Linked DNA regions of Homo sapiens. The protein of the gene in region 1 interacts with the protein of each later gene in a biochemical or structural test. Each region holds a gene or a part of one and is shown in the gene's direction. Other genes may lie near its edges.

Region 1 (7,027 bases):
CTAGAGTGTAAGGGAGAGATGGGGGGAATGGCGCAAGGTGAGGTTTGAGAGGGAAGCAGGGACGAGATCACACAGCCGATTCTAAGCCATGCTGGGGAGAGTCCCTCCACCCAGTACAAAGGGAAGCTTTGGTGAGTTTAAGCTCAGCAGTGATATCTGATTGACTCTTTTTTTTTTTTTTTTGACAGAGTCTAGGTCTGTTGCCCAGTCTGGAGTGCAGTGGCATGATCTCAGCTCACTGCAACCTCTGCCTCCTGGGTTCAGGTGATTCTCCTGCCTCAGCCTCCTGAGTAGCTGGGATGATAGGCATGCACCACCACACCTGGCTAATTTTTATATTTTTAGTAGAGACGGGGTTTCGCCGTGTTGATCAGGATGGTCTCAAACTCCTGACCTCAGGTGAGCGACCATGGCCAGCCTGATGGACATTTTTGAGATTGCTTTGACTGCTTTTATGAAAAGTGGATGGATCATAGGGGGCAAAGTGTAGAAGCAGGAAGACCACTTAGGAGGAAAGAGGATGGTGGCTTAGAACTGGACAGCAGCAATGGAGGTAGAGAGAAGTGGGAGGAGCCTACTTAGATCTTGGAGATAGCATTGATGAGATCTGGTGATAGATTACATTGGAATGAGGCAAGGGAAAGGACTCAAGGGTGACTCCTGGGGTTCTGGCTTGAACAGCTGGGTGTATGGTGGCGTTGTTGTGGGAGACAGGAAGACTAGGAGGATTATGCTCATGGAGAAAATCAAGTTCTGTATCAGCCATCCTAAATTTGAGATGTCTAGGAGGCATCCTGTGGAGATTTCAGGCAGGCAGGAGGCCTGGACCTCCGAGGAGACTTACAGGCTAGAGACATTATTACCAGCCTGCTGTGGAGCTGCCAGAGTGCTTGCCGGCACATGCCCTGTGTTTCATTTCCCTGAGTGTCTGCTTACGTTCTTCCCCCTGCGGGGGATGCTCTTCCTCTCTCCCAGGCTAATTGCTACTCATCTTTAAAAAGCACCTGTGTCTTTATCTCCTCGAAGATGCTTTTAACTCCCTCCCCTACTCTTAAGTCCCTGTGTTTACCTTCATTGTGTGTTCAACTGAAGTTACCCTTTTTTTTTTAATATCTTATGTGAATGAAACACTTGGTGCTGGCCTTACCAGATAATAAGTGCTCACAGTAAGGGTAAATTCGACAAATGTTAGCTATTATTATTATTATTGATGGGGGTGATAGACATATAAATAAAAATTGCATTACATTAGGGTAAGCATAATGATAGTGTATTAGTTTCTTATTGCTGCGGTAACAAATTACTCCAAACTTAGTGGTTTACATCATACAAGTTTACTATCTTACAGTTCTGGAGGTCAGAAGTCTAGAATGGATCTCACTGGGCTGAAATCAAGGTGTTAGCAGAGGATGTTACTCCTGGCAGCGCTGGGAAGAATTTGTTTCCTTGTCTTTTCCAGTATCAGGAGGCCACTTGCATATCTTGGCTTGTGGTTTCCTTCTTCCACCTCCAAAGCCGGCAGTGTTGGTCTTAATCCTTCTCAAGCTTCCATCTCTCTGATTCTCCCTTCTGGCATCTTCTTCCACCTTGAAGGACCCTTAAAGTGATTCCACTGGGCCACCTGTATAATCTAGGCTACTCTCCCTATTTTAAGGTCAACAGCTTAGCAACCTTGATTCCATCTGCAACCTTCATTTTCCATTGCCATGTAACTCATGGAACCTAATGTGTTCCCAGGTCCTGGGGATTAGGATGAGGATATCTTTGCAGCCTGGGAAAGAAGGGTGTTACGGGAGCTCTGGGGAGAGGTTCCTAACCCATGGGGAAGAGAGGGTCAGGGACATCTTACCGTGGCTGTAGTGATGCACTTGTGGGAGTCAGCCTCCACTGTGTCCTCACAGTCACTCCTTCGTCAGAGCTCTTCTCTGTGCCAGGCCTCCGTGGAGAGTTGGAGTTGAGGATTTATTTCACTGTGCATTCTTCAGCTGTCGGCCCGATTGTTCACTTTCAACCCAGGGACACTAATTTCTCACCCAGCCTCTTGAAAAAAATTAAATTTACCAACCCATGCAAACCCTCTACCAGCTCCCCGCCTCGTACCCCAAGTCCTCTCCCAGGAAGGGATGGGCAGGGTGTGAGCTGGGTCCTCTGACTTCAGAGTCTGCCCCCAGTCCATTTCCTAGCACAGCACGCATCCCTACAGTTGTTCCTTTTGTATGGCTAAAACCTTGTTCCAAAGCTGCAGCCAGGTCCCTAACCTCAGCCAGCCCTGTTCCCAGAGCAGGCCATTGGCCCCAGGAGAGGTCAGGAGGGAGTGTGTGGTTCGATTAGGACAGATCCGTCTGAGTCCTTAGGGGAAGAAGCAACTGGAGGGCCTGGCGCACTGGTGGCCCCATCTTCTGAGAGTAAAGGAAACACACCATGATGTGCTGTGTAGCCACGTTGCTGCGAGGGGTAATTAATACCAGATTTCTGAAGTCCTCTCAGTTATTTAGAGAAAATGGGCTCCTGTCCCAGATCCTCCCCAGAAACAGACGGTTTCTTGAGACCTTAAGCACTTTGGAGAGGCACATGAGCTCTCTTGGCCACCGACGAGCTGAGTTACAAAGCGACTGAGGGCGTCTGCTGCCTGGGGTCACCCTGCCAGCCCCTTCAGCTCCCATCTCTTGGAAATGCCACAAACTAAGCTTGTCTTGTAATATTTTTGGTGTTTCCTCTTCCTTCACTGCCCTAAGTCAGGAAGTGCGAAGGTGCACAGAGTTAGGAAAACAAAAGTAAGTATGTCCCTCCAGTGGCGGGATCCTGGTTGGAGCCTGGTTTGGGATAAAGAAGAGTGCCTGTCAGTACTTCCCCAGCTGTGGTGGGAGTTACGCAGAAGCCAGCTGGGGAGGATCAGCCGTGGGCACAACAGGAAGAAGGGCGTCAAGACAGCGCCCACCCGCGGCTTCTGGGGGATGTTGACATTTCCTCTTTCAAAACCAATCATGAATTTTTGGTCAAGGCTTCTGCCTCTGTAAAAACTTGTCCTGTGTGTAACAACACTGTGTGCCTATTTCATTGTAGTTAGTCTATCTATCTAAATAATTTCCTTTTGAGTAGAAATGTAAAAAGGGTGCCCAGGCATTCCATTATAGTTGTTCTCTCCTGAGACCTTGGGGGATGCAGGATGGCTCAGTGGAATGGTCGGTGGGTGGGAAAACCAGAAGATTCTGGGGTCTACTGTAGTCACCACCTGTCCTTCTCTTTTGCACTGACCATACTGACTTAACTGAGATAATGTAAGAAAAGCAGCCAGCACAAGGGTCTCGTAGATGGTAGCCGTTATTACAGCTGTCTTGCAGGGAAATGTGTTTGCTCATATAGTTCCTCACCTGTGAGCTGGGGCATCTTGAAGGGGATTGGGAACTGGGACTCTATGTTATTCCTCTTGGCCCTTTGTGCCCAGCACAGTGCCCAGCAAATGACAGGCACTGAACAAGGGGGCTGAGTCAGGTATATTGGCTTCAGCTGCTTAGCTGTGTTACCACATTTGTTGAACTTTTTTCATCGAGTTTTAATTTTTAATTTTTTTTTTTTTTTTTTTGAGATGAAATCTTGCTCTGTCGCCTAGGCTGGAGTGCAGTGGTGTGATTTTGGCTCACTGCAACTGCTCCCTCCCGGGTTCAAGTGATTCTCCTGCCTTAGCCTCCTGAGTAGCTGGGATTACAGGCATGTTCCACCACGCCTGGCTAATTTTTGTATTTTGTAGAGATGGGGTTTCACCATGTTGGCCAGGCTAGTCTTGAACTCCTGACCTTAGGTAATCCGCCTGCCTCAGCCTCCCAGAGTGCTGGGATCACAGTAAGCCACCACTCCCAGCCTAATTTTTTATATTATTATTATTTTAAGTGATAGGATCTTGCTGTGTTGCCCCAGCTGGAGTGCAGTGGCACAAATATAGCACACTGCAGCCTCTAATCCAGGGCTCAAGTGATCTTCCTGCCTCAGCCTCCCAAGTTGCTGGGATTACCAGCATGAGCCACCTTGCCTGGTTATTCATTTTTTATATTTGGATGGTCTCAAACTTCTGGCTTCAATGGCCAGGTGCACTGGCTCATGCATGTAAGCCCAACACTTTGGGAGGCCAAGGCGGGTGGATTGCTTGAGCCTCGGGAGTTTGAGACCAGCTTCGGCAACATGGTGAAACCTCACCTCTCCAAAAATAACAAAAAACAAATAACAAAAATTAGCCAGACATGGTGGTGCACTCCTGTAGTCCCAGCTACTCGGGAGGCTGACGTGGGAGGATTGTTTGAGCCCAGGGAGGTCGAGGCTGCAGTGAACCAAGATTGTGCCACTGCACTCCAGCCTGGGTGGCAGAACAAGACCATGTCTCAAAAGAAACCAAACTCCTAGTTTCAAGCGGACCTCCTGTCTCAGCCTTCCAAAGTACTAGGATTACAGGTGAGAGTTTATAATTTTAATGACTATACATTTTACTTTTAGAAATTCTTAGTTCTCTTTCAGTTCAGCCTGCCCTTCCATCCTTGGGTCCTTTTCTTTCCTTAGGGTTTCTGTTTTGTGTTTTATATCTTCATTTTAAATATACTAATGTTCTCTTTCACATTGCTCTAGGTTCGTTCTAGAGGAGCCAGTTCTCCCATTTGTTGTGTCTTCTGGTTTGGGGGCTTAGTGGCTCATGCCCCAGGAGAGCCCCACCTATCTTGGGTAGCAGAGATGTCTCCACAGAGCAGTATTATGCTTCAGCAAAGGCCCTAAGTGTTTCCTGGGTCCTGGAAAAGTTTCTATGGGAGCTTCTGGGCCCATATTTTGACCCCAGACCAATGGTGTATGGTGGATTCCACAGTCACACCCAGAGGCTTTAAAATCTGCACGGAAGCCTTTTTTCCTTACTCAGATCCTGCTTTCTTGCCATTTCTCTGGGCTGATGGGAGGAATAATTCAGGCCCTCATTTTAGAGATCAAATCATTTAGATTTTGATCTCTTTGAGGGTCCTGATTTTATAAAGGGGTCTCAGTTCTCCTCTAATTCTGGGAGACACCAAGTTGCAACCAGCTAGCTTAATATTCAGTCTTCTTTTTCAGACCAGGAAAAGAAAGAACATTTATAAAAATGTAAAAATTGCCTTTTTGGAGAAAGAACTGAAATCTGTAACAGAACATTAGTAATGAGACAATTGGATTCATATCAGCAAGCACTTACTGAGTGCGTCCTGTGCATTCACCTGCTGCAGTGCCTGCTGGAGGTGCAAGGGCAGTGGTAGGGCCCTGATCATTTCTGTAATCCCTAGTGCCTAGCACCAAGTCTAGCACAGGGAAGACAATAAACATTTCAGAAGAAAGAAAGAAAATGCATGTGCTTGAAGAATACGCATGCTGACGCAAAAGACTTACTAAGATGCTGAAGAATATCACTGAATTGAGACTCAGAAGTCCTGAATTCTAGTTTGGAATGGATACTGACTAGTTATGTGACCTCAAATAGTAGCCATTTATCCTCTGTGGACCTCAGTTCCCCACCTGCGTAAAGGGGATGGTAGCTTCTGTCCTGAGTCACCCTCCCCGCCAGGTTACAGCGCGATAATGAGTATGGAAGTGTAGGAGCCTCGGAGGGGTAAGGGGTCAGTCTTGTCTTCAAGGCCGATGGGACAGCGTGCCTTCCAGCAGCCAACGTGCCTTCTAGCAGCCATCTTGCCTTGGGAACTTCCTTCACCTCGCCCTGTAATCACTGTGGGCACTGGGTTTTCAGGGGATGGGCTGTAAGCATTTCAGGTCTTCAAAGCTTGTTCGAGCTAAGGGGCTATTGTTCGGTGTATGGTCAGTATTTGGGCACTGGGGAGCTGACCTGCTTCCTGTCTCATGTGATATCCTTTCCCCTAGAAGTTCCCTCAGGACCTCATCAATATGGGCCGAGCCGTCACAGAGAGCCGTTCTGGGATGGAATTTTTGCATGTCATTGCGTTTGTGATCTTTGACCCACTGTTCTTTGCGGCTCCTCCTCTGGCCAGTGGTTCTCATGACCCCTCCAGTGGGCTGTCCTTTGGCTAGGTCATTCTTTCCTGCCTAAGGTGACTTGGCGGGTGGAGGGTAGGAGCATTTGTCATGATGCTGTGGGAAAACCACTGGACTTGGAATCAATAGTGATAGCTATTATGTATTGCTCGTTAATATGTGTCATTACTGTTGTAAGCAGTTTTCCTCTATGAGCTCATTTAATCCTCATAATAACCCTATGAAATAGGCGCTATTTCTAACTCCCATTTTATATACGACGAACCTGAAATACGCAGAGCCTAGCTAACTTCCCTGAGGTCATATAGTTAGTAAGTGGCAAGATTTTTTTTTTCTTTTTTGAGACAAGGTCTCACTCTGTCTCCCAGGCTGTAGTGCAGTGGCGCTATGGCAGCTCACTGCATCCTTGCAATCCCAGGTTCAAGTAATCCTCCCAGGTTCAAGTGATCCTCCCACCTCAGCCTCCCTAATAGCTGGGGCCACAGGTGTGCGCCACCAGGCACAGTTAATTTTTGTATTTTTAGTAGAGATGGGGTTTTGCTGTGTTGCCCAAGTTGGTCTCGAACTCCTGGACTCAAGTGATCCACCTGCCTTGGCCTTCCATAGTGCTGGAATTGCAGGTGTGAGCCACCATGCTTGGCCCTTGTAATTGGCAAGATTTTAAGCAAGGCGATCTGTGTTCAATACCCATACTCTTGACCACGATACAATATTGCCTCTACAGACTTGAATTTTAATTCCACGCCTTAATTCTTCATGTGGCCTTGGAAGAGTCTGCTTTTAGCCTTTCTCTTAGCCTGCCTAAGCTTTAGTTTTCTAGTCTGTAAATTGTGAAAACTCTCACAGTTTTTTAAGGGTGTCAAATAAAGCAATATATAAGGAAAGTGGCTAAGCGAGTGCCTGGCACGTAACTGGTACTAAACAAAAATTAGTGGGTTTCAAAATGAGATAAGAATTCTCATTTGCATGATCAGTAGGGAGAAGAAGCATGAAAGAGTGAATTCACTTTTAAGAG
Region 2 (7,027 bases), on another chromosome or scaffold:
GCTCCTGTAATCCCAGCTACTTGGGAGGCTGAGGCAGGAGAACAGCTTGAACCCAAGAGGCAGAGGTTGCAGTGAGCTGAGATTGTGCCACTGTACTCTAGCCTGGGTGACAGAGCTGACAGAGTGGAGGGACCCTACTTTGGCTAAACTGGAAAGATCATGTTTGATATCACAGCCCCTCAGTTATTGGGCAACCTCACCCATACAGAACACGGGGCGGAGGAGGGGAGCCAGCCCTGCTGTTTCTGGCTTTAGCTCACAGTAAGGGAGGAAGCAAAAGTGGTTTCTCAGGAGCCAAAGATGATTTCCCTAAGAGCTTTCCTTAAAGCTCATATACTACACTCCTAGGAGATGTCCCCTAGCTTTTACTCAGGTCCTATGAACTCTAATTTCACCCACAATTTTAATGAGCTTGGTCATGGGGTCTTTTAGCCTATAGATGTAGCAATTAGTGGCAGTCTGCACAGTACCTGATATACAGTTGGCGATGGATAAATGCTGATGGACCTGGACTACGAAAGGACGTTTCACAGGCAGCTAGCAGCCTGATTGCAAGGAAGGAGACAGAAACAGTCTGAAAAGCAGCTGTAGTGGCACAGAAGTAGTGGGGACACTCAGCATGGGAGCAGACACAGTCCTGTCCCTCAGTCGGCCTGTTTTTGCAATTTTGTCAGTGTGGCCACACAGTATTTATTTATAGCCTGATTTTAGCTGCAGCCGAGTGTTCAGATGCACGCTGCTGTAGGAGTGAGGCAGGGCGGACCAGCCACAGAGGGAGGGAAGGGATAATGTGATTTCTGTGATACACACAGATGATAAAGAGCATCACACCTTGGCAGGAAGTTTGTAAATGAGCCTCAGAGTGGGACCTGTCAGTGAGACAAGGTTGAATCTGAGAATACCAGCTGTCTGAGCGGAGAGGGCACTGGCCTAGCACTGAGTCTAAGGCGCTGGGAAGCCCAGAGAAGGAAGGGTCCTCCCCCTGCCCCCAGTTTGTCGTGGCTCCACTCCCAGCAGGTGGCCAAATTATTGCAAGAAATGTCTGTCTGTATCCTCTGCACAGGGCTGACAAGTGGGGTACTGGCTGAGGACGTGTTCATAGAATAAATGAATGGACAGTGAATGTCTCCATGGTCCATCTCCCTTCCTGAACCCATTTTTTACTTCATTTCACTTTTTTTTTTTTTTGAGAAAGAATCTTACTCTGTCACCCAGGCTGGAGGGCAGTGGCACAATCTCAGCTCACTGCAACCTCCGCCTCCTGGGGTCAGGTGATTCTCCTGTCTCAGCCTCCCGAGTAGCTGGGATTACAGACGTGCGCCGCCACGTCTGTCTAATTTTTGTATTTTTAGTACAGATGAGATTTCACCATGTTGGCCTGGCTGGTCTCGAACTCCTGACCTCAGATGATCCACCCGCCTCAGCCTTCCAAAGTGCTGGGATTACAGGCGTGAGCCGCCGCGCCCAGCACTACATTTCACTTTTGTTATATTCTGCAAATATTTGGTGAGTAGGGCTGTCTACTAGGTGGTCCACGCTGGACCCCTGAGCTTCTTCACCCTGCAACATCTAATCAGATGAATGAAACTGTCTTGACCTGAAGGAAGCCATAGTTCAGTGCCGGGGCTGGAGGAATAACTGGGTCAGGCAAGGAGTGCTCTGAGAGGAGCAGTATCTCAACTGTGCCATCCTCTCCCAGGTCCCCCATCCCCCGCAACCTGTATGTCTATCCAATGGCCTTTGCAAAGATGTCATTAGATATTGTTTTAAGAGGGAAAATCTAGTTCTGGACCAGATTCTATTGAGATCCACATCCTATTCCTTTTAGGGTAGTTAAAAGGAAAAGTAAGGACCTGGGGAGGCTGGGTCACATGCACTGCAGTGACTGTCACCCACCCTTTGGGTGGGAACCACCAAGGGGGTATGGGGACAATAGGCCTGAACTTTCCCCTTGACATGTGGGTGTATCTCTCCTTTGAGGCTGGGCTCTGGCTCTATCTAGAAACCCCTGTGCCACACTGGGAGGAGCTGAGCCTCCCCAAGCCCATTTAACAGGTGACAGCACCGCTGCCGAGTGGGGCAGTGACTCACCAGCTTCACACAGTGGGACCAGCTGGGCTGGTCTGCCCCTTCCCTATGTGGCACTCAGCCACTGGTGCCTTTTCCCTTCCCAGTTCTGAGATGCTGAGGTGCCCATTTATGAGGCTACAGAGAAGGGGACTGAGGGGCCCTACTCTGATCTGTCATAAAGCTGCCTGTCCCTACCCCCAGACCTGTCTACCATGGCCCAGGGGCATCAGGAGAGCCTGACATTTGCTGGGCACCTGTTCCATCCTGGGCATTTAAAGAGAGATATATATATATATATACACACACACACACACACACACACACATACACACACACACTTTCTAAAGAAACAAAATCAACTAATATAAGATCCTAAAAGGAAAGTGGGGAAATGGAGAAAAATAGGAAAAGAAGAAGCACCTTTAGTCTCATCACACAACTGCTAATATTATGCTGTGTTTGCATAAGATTGCCTTACATAGGTGCAAGCATATTGTGTACATAATTTTGTATTTTCCCTTTCTTTTACAAATTTTTTATTTTTGCAGAGATGAGGTCTCCCTGTGTTGCCCAGGCTGGTCTCAAACTCTTGGGCTCAAGCAATCCTCCTGCCTTGGCTTCCAGAGTGCTGGGATTACAGGCGTGAGCCACCATGCACGGCCCTCCCTCCTTTTTTTTTCTAGTATTTTAAATTTTATTTTAAATTGTAGCGAAATACACATAAAATGTACCATCTTAACCATTTTTGTGGTGTATGGTTCAGTAGCGCTAGGTTTGTTCACACTTTGCCACCCTCCCCTTTTTTTAGCGTAACTCACTCCATCGGGAACACCTGTGGGTGTGGACATGGGTTCCTCATTTTCAGCAACACCACTGTTCATGGCTGCACAGTTCTCTAGCTTGTGAATTTGGTGACCATGCTGTGATTTTTTTTGCCCAGTCCTCCACTGCTGAACATTTAGGTTACTGCCAATTATTTATTATTCTGGACAGTGACACCATGGGTAGATCTTTGACTATAAAGGTTTTTCACTTGGGGATTATTTCTTTGGGCAGAGGAGGCTAATGGCTATTTTCCAGGGAAGGAGGCATTTCTGGGTGAAAGAGTGGGGCCAGTTCTCCAGCCATGGGTACTAGCAGTCACTTTGGGATCCCCCATAGTCCTCTGGTTGGGCAGGAGCTTTTTCACACAGGAAGGAGGGACCCCAGAATGGCCTGGAAGGGTCAGGGCCTGTGGATGGGGCCCTGCTGGAAACCAGAGCCTGCACTGACTTTGTGGAAGGCCTTGCAGCCCAGCAAACTGCTGTGGCTTTGAGGGCCAAGGAGGCCAGTGGCTGAGGAGTGGCCCTGGTGCACTCAGAGCTTGCAGACAGTGCAGGAGGTGGGAGAGAGAGGCCCTGGCCATCCTGCCTTTGCTGCCACCAAGTACCTTCCCGGCACCTGCCTGGCTGCATCTGTCAGAAGCAGTGAGGACGGAGGCTCTCCCTTTCCTGATTGGGAAAGCTCTTTAAGACCTGGTGTTCCCTGTAAAAAGCAGAGAGCCTGGCAGTGCACCTGGTCGGCAACCCGTTGTGAAAAGTGGGGAAATAAGCATTTATACTGGCGCAGGCTTGTAGTATTAACAACAAAAATCTGTGGACGGATGCACAGGGAGCTAATTAAAGTGGTTGCCTGTTGGGAGAATGAGAGAAAGGAGATGGATGAGGGATGAGGCTGAGCGGCTGTGAACGTTTTCAGGATTGATGTTTTTATACTGTTTGATTTTTGAACCATATGAATGTATTAATTATTCAAAAATTAAATCAAACAATTAAAAATGAAAAAGAGGACATTTATTTCAAGTCCCATGAAGAATTTTTCCCTGAATCCCAGCTACTTACATCATCCCCTGAGGAGCAGCAATGCTGCCATTTGCTGAGTGCCTGTTCCATGCCAGGCATGCTGCCATTCAGTCCACATGCCCCCAAACGCATTGTCAGTGTCTTCCTGACTCTGTGATGGGACCTAAGGCACGGCAGGTCTAGGCCCAGACGAGGGTCACCTGTGCAGGGTAGAGCAGGGACTCCCACCTAGGTCTGTCGAACTCTATTGCCCTCTGCCCTGAATTCTAGAGAGTTTGTTCTTGCTTCTACTTTAATTTGTGTAGGATGAAAGGATGCTTCCCTACATGTTAACACTGGTGTCTATGGATTTGGAAGTAGGATTCTCTCCATCCCCCATCTAATTTTCTGCAAGTCAATACAGAGTACCTTTGTCATTAAAAAGAAAATATTTAAAAAGAAAACTAAGCAATTCCTGCTTTCAAGAATGAGTTGGTGTTTCTAGGCCAAATTTGTGGTTTGCTAGCATGCCCTTTTCCACATGCTCGGTGCATATTTTGTGGTACGTGGGCCTCTGGGGACCAAGAACTTCGTTCATCTGTGCCCATTCCACAGGACGTGGCCGGCTGCTCAGGTGTTAGAAGATTGCAGAGGTTTGTGGTCATGCTTGCTTTGCTTTTGCGATGCCTGCAGATGGTCACTGCCAGGATTTGCTGGCTGCAGGGTTCTGGGTCGATTTGGTGTTCTGAATTCAATTTTATTCTTGATAAAAAACAAGATCTGCTTCTTGATGACCCACTTTGTGCTCCAGTCCCCTGGAACCCACATGCTTTTCCTGGCTGCTCCTGACATCTACACAGAACTAGGGCAGCCCCTGGGATGGAGAAGGAGGGCCTTGCTTTGGGCTTTGAAGGGTGGGTGAGGATTTGAGACATGTCAGGAGGACAAACGGCACTCAAGGTGGGAGGTACGGCATGGGCAAAGGTGTGGAAGGGGGTTTGGAAGACAGTTTTCTGGCCCAGAGCATTGTGCAAGGTGACTGGTAGGAAGGGAAGGCACGAGCTGGATTGTGAAAGGTCTCTGCCCTAAGTGGTGGCAGAGATACTTTCTTCTGCCTCTCTGCACCCTCTCTGGTGGTGGCTGTTTCCTCTCATGCAAAAGAGGACAGAGGCTGCGGGCTGTGAGTGGGATGCCCTTCCTCCTCACCCAGAGCCTGGCTGACGCTGCAAACCACATGATGGAGGGAACTTTGGGTGGAAACCAAGACTGCCTCTGCTTCCAGCTAGAGAGCATGATGCCCTGGGCCCTGGGCTGCCCACACCAGGACTCTCCTCTGGGTTGGCTCTGGAAGGTTCCTCCCTCACAGACTCAGTCATGCTCCATCCTCCAGGCTTAGAAGGAAATCGGCTTCTTGGGAGGCCGAGGCGGGTGGATCATCTGAGGTCAGGGGTTCGAGACCAGCCTGGCCACCATGGTGAAACCCTGTCTCTACTAAAACTACAAAAAAATTAGCGGGGCATGGTGGCGCATGCCTGTAATCCCAGCTACTCAGGAGGCTGAGGCAGGAGAATCGCTTGAACCCAGGAGGTGGAGGTTGCAGTGAGCTGAGGTTTCACAATTGCACTCCAGCCTGGGCAAAAGAACGAAACTCCGTCTCAAAAAAAAAAAAAGAAGAAGAAGGAAGCGGGCTTCTTTGAAGCCTCACCCAACCCTCACCCACACTTGCTAGGTGGCCTTGGAGAATCATTTTCCCTTTCTGAACCTCAGTTTCCTCATCTGCAGGATGTCAGGGTCGTCATCACTTAAGATAAGGGCTTTGAGGTTGGGGCGGCTCAGGGCAGTGCTAAGGGACCACCTCCTGCTCACCACAGTGGAGTAGCAGACCAGGAACAGTTCCCAGGGGACCCAGATTTATAATTGGATATGCACCCATAGGGTGAGCCTTATACATAGATCTTGCTGTTTCAGAATGCCTCCTCCAATCATGTTCACCATTGCATGTTATACTCCACCATTAGAGAATCATTCCTTTGGTTTCAAGTAACAAGATGATCTATGTTATCTCACTTAATTCCAACAATAGTCCTGTGAGGTCAGTATTCTTATTCCTGTTTTACAGAGAGGAAACTGAGCCTCTTGGAAGGAATGTGGGCCTGGGGGATGCCACACAGATGGATCGGACTGGGCTGGGCCTGGATGCCACCTTCCCAGGTCTGGGTCAGAGAGCCCTTTGCAGTTAATGGGAGGGTGTGTTGGTTTGCTGAGGCCTGGCACACTGAGCAATGGGTGATGGAACAGGCAGGAGAGCGACAGCTCCTTCCACTGGTGTTGACAGGCCACCCACCATTGGGCAACAGGAAGTGCCAGCTGGAGCCCTGGAGACCAGCAGCCAGTGTGGGGATGTGGTGGCCAGATGGAACTCAGGGCTTCCCAGCTGTGGAAACAGGAACGGGAAACAGCCACACTGGGGAGGAAGTCAGGGGGTGATGGGCTGAGGCAAGAGCATGCCTGCGTGGCTAGAGAGAGTGACCAAGGTGGAGAGTAGTTGGAGATAAGGTAAGAAATAGAACAGTGGCCAGGCGTGGTGGCTCACACCTGTAATCCCAGCACTTTGGGAGGCTGAGGTGGGAAGATCACTTGAACCCAGGAGTTCAAGACCAGTCTGGGCAACATGGTGAAACCACTTCTTAAAAAAAAAAAAAAGTACAAAAATTAGCTGTACCTGGTGGTGCACACCTGTAGTCTCAGCTACTTGGGAAGCTGGAGTGGAAGGGTCACTTGAGCCCAGGAGTTGGAAACTGTAGTGACTGTATGATCGCACCACTGCACTCCAGCCTGGGCAACAGAGCAAGACTGTCTCAAAACAAACAAACAAACAAACAAAAAAAACAAAGAAAGAAAAGAGAAGCAGAGAGCCAGATCTTGTAGGACTGTCATTCTAAAAAATCCCAATGCCCAGGCCACACCCCAGGTCAATTACACCCCGATTTCTGAGGGTAGGACCTGGACATCAGTATTTTTCAAAGTTCCCCAGTGCCTCCATGTGGAACTTTAGCTTGAGAGGCATCAACATAGATAATTGTGGTAATTAATTACCATTGCTGGCCAAGCATGGTGGCTCATGCCTATAATCCCAG
Region 3 (7,027 bases), on another chromosome or scaffold:
TGAACAGGGCTTGACACATAGTAATTGCACAATAACTTCTACCTATTATTGAGTTACAACCCAGAGCCTAACACAATATTTGTGGAATGCTTAGGTTCTCAGGCCAGCATACAAGTCTACATTTAACTCTTAAATAAAATAACAGTTTCAAATTGAGTATAATAATGCTAAATGGTGAGACAGGATCAACCCCTCTATCTCCAAATATAGGGGGATTATCTTACCATCCACCTGTTGTATTAGAAAGTCATGCTTCATCTACTTATGGAAGCCAAGACATAGCCTAGATATGTACAAACTATAGATATAACGATGTTAAGGAAAAAAATTGCTGACAATATCACTAGGGATTCTAGACAATGTAAATTGCCATTAATGTTTATTGCTGTGATGGACTTCCTGAACACATTGTTAGAAATTGGTTTGTGGCCAGGTATACAAATAATTCATTGTATGGATTTTATTATTCATCAGTTGATGGACATTTGGGTTGTTTCCACATTTGTTCTCTTATGAATAATGCTTCTGTAAACAGTTGTGTACTAGTTTTTGCATGGAAATATGTTTTCATTTCTTTTGGGTATTTACCTAGTTATGGGTATGCTGCGTCATATGGTAACTCTGTGTTTAACATTTCAGGAACTGATTTCATATCAATTTATATCTCATTCTGTTGTTTTCTTTTTTGGTGTTTTTGCTCCCTAATTTTTTCTTCCGTGTTCCTGTATAAGTTTTATTTTTCACCGTCATCTCAATTCATTCAACAAACATATATCAAGTGCCTACTGCATGCCAGAAACAGAGCCAGGCTTTGGGGAGACTTCAATATTTCAGTGGTGGACTAGGTGTAGTCACTGATCCTGATTTTCCCAGACCCTACCACTTGTGGGGAGACAGAGAAGTACATAACGATTTTAAATTGCTTTGAGATATCTTGTAGTAGAGGAAATACAGAGTGCTATGGGTGTTTATGGAAGAGACATCTCCTGTTTCTTATTTAGTGCTGTATGCGACTTGGGTTAAAAGATCCACACTGATTTCCAGTAGTTGGTATTCCCAGTTGTTGCTATCCTAGAGCCCGATTTGTATGCTAAGATTGCTAATACTGAGTCATGTCAGGTGAATAACTTCCATTTTTAGCAGACTAATCTAATTCCCTTTCATAGTTCAGCTCTCATATTGGAAAAGAACACGAAATAACTGTTAGAAACCTTTTAACATCCTTTAAAATATTTGAAAAAAGAGAAAGCTGGCATGGTGCCTGTTAAACACTGTAGTATTTAAAAGAAAATGTTTGTTGAATGAATAAAAGCATATAGCAGAGTGCTGTATGTACACACAGAGGATGAGCAGTAAATGAATAAATGATGAATTTTCTAAGTGAGTTTCCTGTAGCATGTGACCAAGCAGAATGATTATGAATGAGTTTGACTGCAACGCTTTCTTTGATTATTAGGACTTGTCACCAGGCTTCGGTACCCAGTTAGTGTGAAAGGGAAGAATGCACCCACCACTGCAGGATTCAGCTATGGTAACTCTTATTTTGTGGTTGCATGAGCTAATTTTCCTTGAAAAGAATCCATTGTCATAAGATAAATTTGGATGTGTACTATTTCACATACTGGAACTGTTTTTTATAAGTTTATAGTATAGGTTTTTAGATAATTATACTTAAGACCATAGCAGCCTAGGTATTCAATTTTCATCATTATTCATAATTCCATAGAAAACTTTCTGTCAGTGAAAAATAAGCATTATCATGTTAACATCTAAAATAAATCAAAGCCCTTCCTGGTTCTCACTAGCTTTATTGGCTACAAGAACGTGAGTAAGGATGGAGGTAAGAAAGCAAGCTTCCAACTTAATTGTCTTTGTTGCTTCTGGCAAAAGCCTTTAAAACAGCAAATTAGATTATTTCCAACTTGATGGAATTGAAAAAGAACAACAACAAAAAAAAAACCTGAGAAGGAAGAGTGGTAAAGAAGGAAGTATTTGTTTGACAAAAGTACCTTTAACTTTCAGGCTATATTATTATTAGCTTGTTATGCAGAATTGTCTTGCCTTCTTCATTTCACGTTGGTTAGAAGGGATTCATCCTTCCCACCTTTGGCAGTTCAGATGCAGGTTTCAAGTCTGTTCTGTGTTTTACCAGGAATTATTACAGTGTTATCCTGTAATTTTGAGGTTGATCTTGGTTGTAGGTTCTTTTTCCCCCTCTCTGATTCATGCTACATTTTCCTTTTTAAATATGAACACTTTCACTTTCTGTCCTGCAGAGAAATGGGAGATTAACCCTTCAGAACTGACCTTTATGAGGGAATTGGGAAGTGGACTGTTTGGAGTGGTGAGGCTTGGCAAATGGCGAGCCCAGTACAAAGTCGCAATCAAAGCTATTCGGGAAGGTGCAATGTGCGAGGAGGACTTTATAGAAGAAGCTAAAGTGATGATGTAAGTTGCTATCATCTTTCTGGCTCATCTTTTTGTATTAAGAAGTGGCCCCTTACCAAAAACTTGGTAGTTTCTTTTCCTATAGTAACTATATATATGTCTTCCTTCCCAGGAAACTGACACACCCGAAGTTAGTGCAGCTTTATGGTGTGTGCACCCAGCAGAAACCAATATACATTGTTACTGAGTTCATGGAAAGGGGCTGCCTTCTGAATTTCCTCCGACAGAGACAAGGTCATTTCAGTAGAGACGTACTGCTGAGCATGTGTCAGGATGTGTGTGAAGGGATGGAGTATCTGGAGAGAAACAGCTTCATCCACAGAGATCTGGTAACCCTAGCCACCCATATTCCCACTCATTGGCTGAATTCCTTTGTAACACTGGCTCAGCAAATGTGCAATGATGTATTAATAGCCAATTTTTGTTCTTAACAATCTTTCACCATTATTTTTAAAGTTGGTAAATTTAACTTGCCCTGTAATTTTAAACGAAAGATCTTTATTCAATCTAATGATTTACTTAGTTAATATCTCCAAGCAAGTTTCCATGTTTTAATTTTTCGATCTCCATAAGAATCCCATGAGATAGCTACTCACAGTGGATTCTCTTACCATCATTCTTGTACAGATGAGAAAATTAGCTTCAGGGAAGTCAAAAGGCTCGCCTACTGTGATAAATAGGGAAATTGGGGTTGGCCTTGACTTTCTAACTAGAGCCCAAGTTCTTTTCCACCTCACACACTATAAAAAGAAACTATAAGAGAAATCCTTTGGATTTTTAAAAAATCTCTCAAATCACTGGGAAAACATGGAGGTTCATGTTAACTTCTCAAAATGCTAGAAAAAGAAATCCGTTACCAGTTCTAAATTATGATGGAGACAATTTTTCCCTTCTCACCTGTTCTCACTCTCTCCTCCATTCTTCTTTTCCTTCTGTTTTTCTTCTCTACCTGTTCTTTACAGATGCTTTCAGCTATCAGTAGCACTCTGTCCCCTGAAAATAATCAGCTGAAAATGTCTGTTTTCAGCATATCGGTAGCACTGTCTGTCCCCTGAAAATAATTCTTTTACCAAGAAGAGTGTAATTTTCATTTGGGACTTTCTCCCATATTTTAGTTTTAGCTTTCTAGTGATAAAGCATGGACACATTTCTTTTAGAAAGCAGAAAAACTTTAAAAAAATTTTTTTTTCCTTTGAGACAGGTCTCACTTTGTCTTCCAGGCTGGAGTGCAGTGGCGCAATCTTGGCTCACTGCAGCCTCAACCTCCCGGGTTCAAGCGATCCTCCTGCCTCAGCCCCCAAGTAGCTGAGACTATAGGCACGTGCCACCATGCCTGGCTAATTTTTGTAGAGATGGGGTTTCACCGTGTTGCTCAGACTGGTCTCGAACTCTTGAGCTTAAGCAATCTGCCTGCCTCAGCCTCCCAAGTGCTAGGATTACAGGTGTGAGCCACTGCACCTGGCCTTAGCAAAACATTTTTTAAAGTTAACAGTCACCTTAGACAGACATTGTTCTGATAAGTATTTTACAAATAAACTTGTTTAATCATAATTCTGGGAAGTAGATTTTCTTATTATTCCCTTTTTACAGATGAGGAAACTGAGGTGCAAATAGGATAAAATAACTTCCAATGGGCAAGTAAATTGTAGAGCCAGGATTTGAACCCAGGAAGTTTGGCTCTAAAGTCCCTACTTAACTACTATGCTATGCTCTCTAGAATTAAAACATATTAGAGAATTGAAGATTTGGAGATGGAACACTTTATTTCCTAGGTGTGTTTTGGGATACTTACCTTATCTTATATTCAGTTTCTGTGTCTGTAAATTGTGGGTTATAATGTTGTTTGGCTTCCAGGACTGTTTTAAAGGTCACATTATTTGACTGGGGCAATGGGCTTTGTAAAATAGACATGCTGTAGATAACATCAGTTATTGTTATCATTGTGTCAGGGATGATGAAGAACATCTCGTCAGTTAAAACTTGTGAACTAAGAACTAAGAACAAAATAGATGTCCTTATAAAACTGATAAAAACTGAGTATCTACGTGGGTGTGGCAGATTACACCTGTCCACACAGATGATGTTTTGGCAAAAACGATTCTTACATTTCTGTGCCTGTGATATTGGTATTACTATGGTAGGTTTGTGTCACCCCTTATGGGAAACTTTGGATGCTCTTGTCTCCTTGGTAAAGAATCCTGTTGACCATCCAGTGCAGGCATTGTGGAGTTGTGAAGTGTTTTCATAGGAAGATGCAGGCAGTCCAGGGAATGGATATTAACTCTCACTTTATAAGACTCTTAAAATGCACTCAGCAAGAAGGAACCTCATATGAGTGGAATTGCCACATAGAGAAAATAGAATTATGAACAGTCAGGAAGAAAAACATATCTTGGTCTATGGGTTATGGTATTAAAAATATTATCGGCCAGGTGTGGTGGCTCACGCCTGTAATGCCAGCACTTTTGGAGGCCGAGGCGGGCGGATCACGAAGTCAAGAGATCGAGACCATCCTGGCAAACATGGTGAAACCCTGTCTCTACTAAAAATACAAAAAAAATTAGCCAGGCGTGGTGGCAGACGCCTGTAGTCCCAGCTACTCGGGAGGCTGAGGCAGAAGAATCACTTGAACCCAGGAGGTGGAGGTTGCAGTGAGCCAAGGTCGCACCACTGGACTCCAGCCTGGTGACAGAGCGAGACTCAGTTTCAAAAATAAAAAATTAAAAAATTAAAAAAAAATTCTTGTCTTCCTTTTGAGAAATACCACGTCTTTCTATCAAACTATTTTCTTAAACCTTGTAACCTTGAAGAACATGCAAGAAAATATAAATTAAATAATCCACAATTGTATTTGACCAATTTTGTACATCATGTTATAATATACTGGGAACATAAATGAAAAAGCAAACTGTATTTACACATAGCTGTTCTTTTTGAGACGGAGTCTTGCTCTGTCACCCAGGCTGGAGTGCAGTGGCGCGATCTCTGCTCACTGCAACCTCCACCTCATGGGTTCAAGCAATTCTCCTGCCTCCAGTCCTAGGTAGCTGGTACTACAGTTGTGTGCCACCACACTTGGCTAATTTTTTTTGTATTTTTAGTAGAGAAGGGGTTTTGTCATGTTGGCCAGGCTGGTCCCGAACTCCTGACCTCAAGTTATCCACCCGCCTTAGCCTCCCAAAATGTTGGGATTGCAGGCGTGAGCCACTGCACCCAGCCTGTTCTTTGACTGGGATGAGATGACCAATCACTGAGCAGAAATATTGGATAAGAGATTGGTCGCCCATCATTTTGATGGTTGTGTGTTATTAAGCTCACCTAGTGAGAACCGGATTAAGGACTTCAAGAGATGTTCTCATTGTCAGTAAGAAAATTGGATAGTTTAATAAGAACAGGTCTGGGAAGGAGAAAAGTGAGTTGACCCTTCTATTAGCCCTTGTTTAAGAATGACAGTTGGCCGGTGAGGTTGCTCGTGACTATAATCCTAACAATGGGGGAGGCCGAGGCAGATGGATGAGGTCAGGAGTTCAAGACCAGCCTGGCCAACAAATACAATAATTAGCTGGCTGTGGTGGTGGGTGCCTGTAATCCCAGCTACTCTGGAGGCTGGGGCAGAAGAATCACTTGAAACTGGAAGGTGGAGGTTGCAGTGAGCCAAGATTGTGCCACTGCACTTCCAGCCTGGGCGACAGAGGCAGACTCTGTCTCAAAAAAAAAAAAAAGAAAGAAAAGAAAAAAAAAAGACAATTGGTAAAGATTATGTAATAATGCCTTATTGCAAATACAACTTTCTGACCTGCCTATTCATTTTTTTCAAATACACAATGGAAATACTTCCATAGGGGTAAAAACAACTTATTAAAGGGTGTTTCCACTCTCTGCAAATGTTGACTAGGTTACACTAAATTTAATATAAATAGAACTTACATTTTCCTACTTAAATGATAGAATTTTTAAACTAATATACCATCATAATGTTGTTTTCCAGGCTGCCAGAAATTGTCTAGTAAGTGAGGCGGGAGTTGTAAAAGTATCTGATTTTGGAATGGCCAGGTATGTCCAAGTATACGTGGTTTTAGGTGATGTTTGCATTTTTTTGGTGGAATTAATAAGTGTGGGAATAATTTGCACTGATGAAGCAGAAAGGAAATCTTGTTAACTGGTTCTCAGATTAAATTAAGTATATATTGTGATGGTAGTAATTCTCTCCACTAGGTGGTAGTATAGCCTGTTAAATACACTGTATTTCCTGGTGTGGATTAGATTTCTAGAATCTTTTGTTTTCACAAAAACATATTTGGTGGTGAGGTTCTTAGTATGTCCATGTCTGCAGTGTTTTTCTTCTCTTAATTTTTATAATTTAATAGTATTATAAAATACCTTTTAAAGGTATTTAGTTTATTTTTTCTCTCTTCTCCCTCCGTCTATCCATTCATTCATCCATACATCCACCCATAAAAAATCAGGTGCCTGCTCTGTGCCAGGCATAATGATAAGCTGAACCATATAGAGAATAAGACCTACAAGTCCTTGCCCGCATGCAGCTTACATTGAGGAAGAGGGTGAATCAGAAGACCTG

The links. Proteins that work in one complex are often made in the same cells at the same time.
Region 2: the proteins of ASAP1 (region 1) and PSTPIP1 form a complex in vitro, tested with the Homo sapiens proteins (one study listed by IntAct).
Region 3: the proteins of ASAP1 (region 1) and TEC form a complex in vitro, tested with the Homo sapiens proteins (one study listed by IntAct).

The regions. Positions count from the first base shown.
Region 1 is NC_000008.11:130,433,661-130,440,687, reverse strand, and holds part of ASAP1 (arf-GAP with SH3 domain, ANK repeat and PH domain-containing protein 1), read left to right. Parts: intron 1-345; exon of another isoform or gene 346-399; intron 400-7,027. UniProt on the Homo sapiens protein: Possesses phosphatidylinositol 4,5-bisphosphate-dependent GTPase-activating protein activity for ARF1 (ADP ribosylation factor 1) and ARF5 and a lesser activity towards ARF6.
Region 2 is NC_000015.10:76,998,109-77,005,135, forward strand, and holds part of PSTPIP1 (proline-serine-threonine phosphatase-interacting protein 1), read left to right. Parts: intron 1-7,027. UniProt on the Homo sapiens protein: Involved in regulation of the actin cytoskeleton. May regulate WAS actin-bundling activity. Bridges the interaction between ABL1 and PTPN18 leading to ABL1 dephosphorylation.
Region 3 is NC_000004.12:48,140,829-48,147,855, reverse strand, and holds part of TEC (tyrosine-protein kinase Tec), read left to right. Parts: intron 1-1,456; coding exon 1,457-1,531; intron 1,532-2,276; coding exon 2,277-2,448; intron 2,449-2,560; coding exon 2,561-2,777; intron 2,778-6,436; coding exon 6,437-6,501; intron 6,502-7,027.